Linked DNA regions of Homo sapiens. The protein of the gene in region 2 interacts with the protein of the main gene of each other region in a pairwise test. Each region holds a gene or a part of one and is shown on either strand. Other genes may lie near its edges.

Evidence for each region.
Region 1: the proteins of KIF5A (region 2) and TRAF3IP1 interact in a two-hybrid assay, tested with the Homo sapiens proteins (2 studies listed by IntAct).

Annotation. Positions count from the first base shown.
Region 1 is NC_000002.12:238,323,265-238,327,178, reverse strand, and holds part of TRAF3IP1 (TRAF3-interacting protein 1), read right to left. Parts: intron 1,874-3,914; coding exon 1,805-1,873; intron 1,371-1,804; coding exon 1,209-1,370; intron 1-1,208.
Region 2 is NC_000012.12:57,552,952-57,556,865, forward strand, and holds part of KIF5A (kinesin heavy chain isoform 5A), read left to right. Parts: intron 1-3,914. UniProt on the Homo sapiens protein: Microtubule-dependent motor required for slow axonal transport of neurofilament proteins (NFH, NFM and NFL). Can induce formation of neurite-like membrane protrusions in non-neuronal cells in a ZFYVE27-dependent manner.

The DNA.
Region 1 (3,914 bases), on a different chromosome or scaffold from region 2:
GGGAGACAGCCGGCCAGGGCCGAATGCAGGGGTGCGTGGCGACTGGAATGGAGGGCTCAGATATGGGAAACGAGAGAAGGATCTGAAGGGAGAGAAGTAGCAGCAGGTCTCTAGGAGCCTCACAAGCTGTGCCATGGAGCTGGCCCAGACCCGAGGCTACTGGAAGCCGGAGATGATTCAGCAGAGGAGACAGGAGCCAGATGTGCTTTTTAGAAAGATGAGAAACATAAAGGACCCGGGAAGGGGAGCTGGGGAGCCTAGGGACAGAGGCCAGTGTACTGGCAAGATCTGCTTCCAAGTCTCTAAGTTTGCATGCTGGACCTGCACTGGGGGGGCCTCCTAGGAGTCGGCCTGATACCACTATGCACCTCCACTACCCACTGCTGTTGAGGGGGCTGAAACCTACCTGTTCCCATTTGGGTCACATTTAAGGTTAGCCCCCAGCCAACCACCCACTAGGTATGTGAAAAACTGTATTAATTACACTCTCAATACAAGTCCAACCTGCTCCTCCACAGGGCACTACTCGGCCCTCAAAAGAAGGAAGACCCTGGGGAAAGACCTTCTCCAACATTTGGGCAAACATGGCCCAGGCTGGACCTAACTAGAGAAGCCTGAGGCCTTGACACCCAAGTTTCTAGCCCACAGTGAAAAGCTCAAGAAAGAAAAAATCTACTCCCCGTACAACTGAAACAGCAACCGAGAGAGAGAGAAAAGGTGGAAGAGAGAGAGGAAGGGCAACAGGCAAGCAGACACCAGAGGCTGGAGATGGAGGAAGAGAACAGAGACTCCCATAAGACCCAGGGAAGAAGAAAAGCAGCTCCTGCAGCCACTGCAGCCCTGGCTGGAAGCAGCCACCTGTCCTCAAGGGAGCCTCAGAAAGGAGAAAGCCAGAGGGCATGGAAGCCTGGGCCTGCAGCCTCCAGCCTCCAGCCAGGCACAGTGTGCCTGCAGGGTTCCCGACTTTCTACTGAAAGCTTGCAGAACTTGCGTATTACATACCCTTATTTGTTTTATCATTCAGTATTAAATTACTCCTTCTGTATCTCTGGGGCTCCAGAAGGGGTGGGATCAGATTCAAAGCACAGTGTTTGACAGACACCACTGAAACTCCTTCCCTAAACCGCCCGCACATGTGAGTCCCTCACCCCCGACTACTTTTTACTCAAGTACTAAGTAAGTTCAAAATGCCAGGACAGCAGTAGTACCTTGTTGAGACAGCATTTTCCAATTATCTGGAGCAGCTCGTTTGTTCTTTCAGGCTCATGCCCCGCCACGATTCGGGCTGGTTTGGCCAACAGTGGCTCTCCCGACACCATTACAACCACGTCTATGGCCTTTTGTAGGAAGCTAATTTTTGCATCTTTATCCTGAAACATTTCCATTGAAAATACAAATATTACAATACTTTGAAGAGTGTGCATTATCTTCTGTATGTTTACCAGGCATAGGATAGTTTCTGTTTACATACAAAGCTGTTTTTAGATATATAACAAATCTAGAAATACTGACCTTTTACTGACAAAACAAAAACAATTCATTAAAGCCTTTAATTTAGTTGATGGGCTAGCATTAACCTTTGAAATACTAATCCCATTTTTCAGTGAATAAAACTAGCATGACATCCAGTTGCCACAATGAGAAAATGAAATGAGAAAGGGTATATATATCAATTTACGAATTCACTGACCTTGTATTCCAACCACATGCAGCAGAGAAATGACACAAGCCACACTACCAGGCCTACAAAAAATCCCATCCGTTAAGGCGAGGAGTCAATAGGAGAAGCCCGACTCAAACCCACCTTCACATTATCAGACTTCATCTCGGCGTCTGTGTAGAGGCCCTTCATGAAACCAGTCATTCTAATCACCTTCAAGAGAGAAAGAAAGGCCACCATGTCACCTCACAGACAGCCTCCTCATCAGCCTCATCCACTCAACTCCACACTTGGGAGATGTCAGAATTGACTAGCAGCCCAGATTTGAATCATCCACTTAAGAAATATTTGATGTCTACTACACGTGCTGTGCAGGGCAGAAGCCAGCCAGATCCTCTCAGAACTTAGTCTGGCTGTGTGGACAGACAGGTAAAGATGACACCATGCAGGTACTAAGGAAGCACTCAGGCTTGGTACCTAATCCACAATCCGGGAGGGAGCAGGAGTGGCAGGGAACCCTTCCTGGAGGAATCATACCTAGATGGGGACCAGGCTTACAGAAGAGTTGGGCAAGGGGACATTTCGGATGCACATGCCAAACATAAGAAAGTCCACACGGCTGGGTGTGGTGGCTCACACCTGTAATCCCAGCACTTTGGGAGGCTGAGGCGGACAAATCACAAGGTCAGAAGATCGAGACCATCCTGGCCAACATGGTGAAACCCTGTCTCCACTAAAAATACAAAAATTAGCTGGGTGTGGTGGTGCTCGCCTATAGTCCCAACTACTGGGGAGGCTGAGGCAGGAGAATCACTTGAAGCAGGAAACAGAGATTGCAGTGAGCCGAGATCGTACCACTGCACTCCAGCCTGGCGACAGAGCCAGACTCCGTCTCAAAAAAAAGAAAAAAAGAAAATGAAAGTCCACACAAGGTCCAGGACCCACAGAGTCCCCTGCAAGGGATCAAAAGAAATGTAGGACAGCAGGAGCCTGAGGCCAGAGAGACACTCGGGGCCTGGTGCAGAGGCCCTGTGAAGCCACTCAGGGACATGAACTGAGCTGAAGGACCACGAGGAGGACCTGGAACGGCATTTTACAAGAGTCCTTCAGGTGCAATGGAGGGAACAGATTCCAAAAAGAAAAGGAACTTTGGCTGGGCACAGTGGCTTACACCTGTAATCCCAGCACTTTGGGAGGCCGAGGTGGGTGGATCACTTGAGGTCAGCAGTTCAAGACCAGCCTGGCCAACAAGGTGAAACCCCGTCTCTACTAAAAATACAAAAATTAGCCAGGCATGGTGGTGGGCGTCTGTAATCCCAGCTACTCAGGAGGCTGAGGCAACAGAATTGTTTGAACCCGGGAGGTGGAGGTTGGAGTGAGTCAGAATCATGCCACAGGACTCCAGCCTGGGCAACGCAGTGAGACTCTGCCTCAAAAAAAAAGAAAGAAAAGAAAAGGAATTTCTCAACCTAGTTTGCTAAGACTAGAAGTTCTGCAAGGGTCTTTCTCCTCACCACGTGTCACTACTCACTTCTTAAGATGGTGGCAGGCTCCACACCTCACTGCTTTGGTTCTCTCCCTAATCATCCCTTCCCTCAGGTAACCTGTACCTCCTAATTAGCCCTAAAACCAGCTTTTAGGGCAATTATTTTTCCTGTTCCTCTCAACCACCACACCCAGCCAGGGTCCTGGGTTGTCTCAGACTGCAGTTTTTTGAAATGTGGTAGGTTACTGTAAAATCAATACAATTTGTAGCAACAAGCATTTTGAATAGCTGGGACCCTTACCAGCAGGCTGCATGGTATGTGGTAAGGACAGGTATGCTCATAGCCACATATCCTAGGTCAGCTAATAAAGCATATTTATTACGGGAAGACATGTTTTAAAAACAAGACAGTCCCACCCTAATGAGAGCCTCCTCTGGAATCAAGCCACAACTCCTTAATTTGCATCAAGTTAGGTATTAATGAATCTAGGAGTTTTCATTCCACACCACACTATGTAAGAGCTATGCTACTGTTTTTCTTGAGATGACAGGTAGAATATTAAGAGCATCCTGCATTTAACATTCCTGGAACATTTTCATTTTGTCCCTGTTGAGGTTTTCCCAGGATGCTGGCAGTTAAAATTGTGAGCAATAGGCTGGGTACAGTAGCTCACACCTGTAATCTCGGCACTTTGGGAGGCCGAGGCAGGCGGATCACCTGAGGTCAGGAGTTCGAGATCAGGCCGGACAACATGGCGAAACCCCATC
Region 2 (3,914 bases):
CAGCTCTGTGTGCCTTTTTTCTCCCCTACTCCTCTGACTTCTTCCAGGAACCTGGGGGATGGGGCTTAGCCAAAGTTAATGGCCTGAGTCATAGCAGAAGGGTGTCTGGGTCACCGTCTGTGTGTGGTGCCCATCTTGTTTTGCTTTTGCACACTCAGAATCCAGTGTGACTTTTTCGCCAGACCCATTTAAGTGTCTGTCTTCCTCTGCCTTGGTCTTTCTCAGCAGTGTCCCAGTGCCTGCTGTCTGGACTGCTGCATCTGTACCAGATGTGGGAGGGATGACAGTGAAGAAACACATACATACACACACACACTCTTTCTCTTTCCCCTTCATTCAAGTGTACACAGCTACCTCCCTCAGGTCTCCCAATGGTTAAGTGGGTTCTTAATGCAAGAAACTAGGACCATTGTGTACCTCACTTGGCAAAGCTAGGTTGGGACCTGCAGGGTTATTGGAGCAGAATCAGTATTGTTTGGGGTGGCCTGGGATTTGATATCTGAAGTGGGGAGCAGGGCTGTCCTTTGCTTTGGGGGAGTCTCATAAAGAAAAATGGAGACGAGAAGTAACGTTCATTGTGGCCAGTGTCTCTCCAGCATTACCATGGCAACAATCCCCACGGGTGTCACTATGGAAATCAGGCCTGGCACTTGAAGTTCAGCTTATACCAAGTGCTTTACTGAGGGTTGAACAGGTTGGTCATCTTTGGACCCCTGATCTTAAACCCCCAGCCCCAATTAGCTTCAGTCAGCACACATGATAGAAAAGTACAGAAAGGTGCTGGGATACACAAATGGAAGAGGAGACACCAGGGAGGCTCGGAGTGTGATTAAATTAAAAGAGAACAAAGAACCCTGGACTGTGGGACTCTGAAGAGAGGCCCTTCAGAGAAGGCTATAAGGAGCACTTAGACTGCTGGGGGTGGGAGAGAGATTGGATTTCGGCGACATTTCTAAGAGGAGGAGGGACTCTGTGACTATTTCTCATTAACAACTCACAGAGTCTTCGATTACCTGGAGGTAGAGAGGGTGGGTGGCAGAATTACATACTTCTGAAAATGGGATTGAGGTTGGAAAAAGGGAGTGATGAAAGGCTTTAGTTCTGTCTGGAAATACTTGGAAAAATGCCCAAATGTGAGGAGGGGGGATATGGAGTAGGGGAAGAAAAAGCCTTGATAAGGCTCTGACACAGTGTTGGCATTTCAGTTCTTGGATCACTTTGCAGTGTGGGTCTGGAATCAGATTGCTTGAATTTGAAACTGTGCTCTACCATTTCTCAGCCATGTGACTGTGGGGAAGCTACCTGACCTCTTTGAGCCTGTTTCGTCATCTATAAAGTGGTAATAATAATAGTATCTATGTCCTAGGATTACTGTGAACATTAAATGAGATAATGCATATAAACTGCTTTGTAACATGGCAGGCACACAGTAAACCCTCAATAAGAGTTAGATATTATCACTATTTTATATGCTATCTCCCCACAAGCTAGCTTTGACAAAATTGGGAAGTGGGTAACACTTTTCCTTTTTACTAATTGTTTCATGCAAACCTCCAGATCCCAAGTATCTTCTTGCTCCCTTCCTTGTCAATATCTATGTTTAGTCAACAAATATTTATGAAGAGCATCTGTCATAGTCCTCTATATGTTGCTATAAAGGAATACCCCAGGCTGGGTAATTTATAAAGAAAAGAGATATATTTGGCTAACAGTTCTGCAGGCTGTACAAGAAGCATGGCACCAGCATCTGCTCTGATGAGGGCCTCAGGAAGCTTCCAGTCATGGTGGGAGGCAAAGAGGGAGCAGGAATCACATGGCGAGAGAGGGAAAAAGAGGGAGAGCAAGAGGTGCCAAGCTCTTTTTAACAGCCAGCTCTCACATGAACTCATAAAGCGATAACTCACTCATTACCATGGGGAAGGCACCAAGCCACTCATCAGGGATTTACCTCCTTGAGCCAAGCACTTCCCACCATGCCCCACCTCCAACAATGGGGATCAAATGTCAACATGAGATTTGGAGGGGACAAACATCCAAACTACATCAGCATCCTATAGGCCAGGGACTGTGTTTGGTGTTGGGGATTTAAAGGGAATCCCTGCCTTCAAGAAAATCTGGATCAAGGTTGTGATCCATAGCCCATGGAGTGGCCTGCGCAGAGGCAGGGGAGAGGAACATCAGATATGGCTTTTGCTAACTATCTATATACTCCCCCAGATTCTGATAAGGAACCTCCCACAACATACTACAGTCTGATTCAGAGTATTGTGTGTTATGAGAGCTGTAAATAATGGTGGTGCTTCCCATGTCTATGGGCAGGAAAAGTGGAAGACCACTGGTCTAGTTATTTTCATGAAAAGATCACTTTTCTCTAGGCACATTGCCCATGGGTTAGCCCTGCTGTACAAGGAGCAGTAATGAAAAAAAAATCAGGCAAAATTAATTCATCCTGAGTATAATCAATAGAAAATTAAAAGAAATGTACAAAACTTAGCCGAGCATGGTGGTGGCTGCCTGTAGTCCCAGCTACTCAGGAGGCTGATGCAGGAGAATTGCTTGAACCTGGGAGGCGGAGGTTGCAGTGAGCCGAGATCTTGCCACTGCACTCCAGCCTGGGCAACAGAGCAAGACTCCGTCTCAAAAATAAATAAATAAATAAAAATTAAAAAAACAAATTGGCTGGGCACGGTGGCTCACGCCTATAATCTCAGCACTTTGGGAGACAGAGGCGGGTGGATAACAAGGTCAGGAGTTCGACACCAGCATGGCCAACATGGTGAAACCCTGTCTGTACTGAAAATATAAAAATTAGCCGGGCGTGGTGGTGGGCGCCTGTAATCCCAGCTACTCGGAAGGCTGAGGCAGGAGAATCGCTTGAACCTGGGAGGCGAAGGTTGCAGTGAGCCAAGATCATGCTGCTGCACTCCAGCCTGGGCGAAAGAGTGAAACTCTATCTCAAAAAAAAAAAAAAAAGAAAAAGAAAGAAAGAAAAAAAAGAAAAAACAAATTTACATTTTAAAAGGAATAAACAACTTAAAGACATAAAGAGCCAGGCTTGGAATTTTAGAGCCCAGCCAAGAATACAGAAGTAGGTAGCAGGCCTTCCCAGAACTCCTGAAATCATATCTCATGTCACATGGCTTTCCCTGCTCAGGAGATTACTAAATGCACCAATTTTTAGCTCTTGGGTATCTTTTTTTTTTTTCAGACGGAGTCTCGCTCTGTCACCCAGGCTGGAGTGCAGTGGCGCGATCTCGGCTCACTGGAAACTCCGCCTTCCGGGTTCACGCCATTCTTCTGCCTCAGCCTCCCAAGCAGCTGGGACTACAGGCGCCTGCCACCACGCCCGGCTAATTTTTTGTATTTTTAGTGGAGACGGGGTTTCACCGTGTTAGCCAGGATGGTCTCGATCTCCTGACCTCGTGATCCACCCGCCTCGGCCTCCCAAAGTGCTGGGATTACAGATGTGAGCCACCGCGCCCAGCCCACTCTTGGGTATCTTTTAGACTCAGATCTGAGAATCTCTTCCTTCTTCCCTCTCTGCTCTTTTCTTTCTTCCCAGCCTAGACTGATGTAAAGGGGTTCCTGATGAAAAGGGGCTATAATTGGCTTCAGCATTTGGAGAGCGCTCTCCATTTTAATGCGTCTGTGGAGCCTTCTAGATCCTGTAACTGGGAATGTTTTGAGGGAGTGTGTGTGGGGGCTGGGGTGGGGTGGTTGGTGTGTTGGTGCCCATGTGTTTGTGGGGGGAGGGGAGGGGCAAGATTGGCTTGAGAGTTACATTTAATCCCCTTTGGCTGGGTGCCTGGCTTCATGAAGCATGGATAGAGATTGTTGGTGGGAAAGAGATGAGAAAGCCAGTCTCATCTTTTCACATTTTTCTGCCTGTTTTATATTCTGGCTGCACTGGCAGT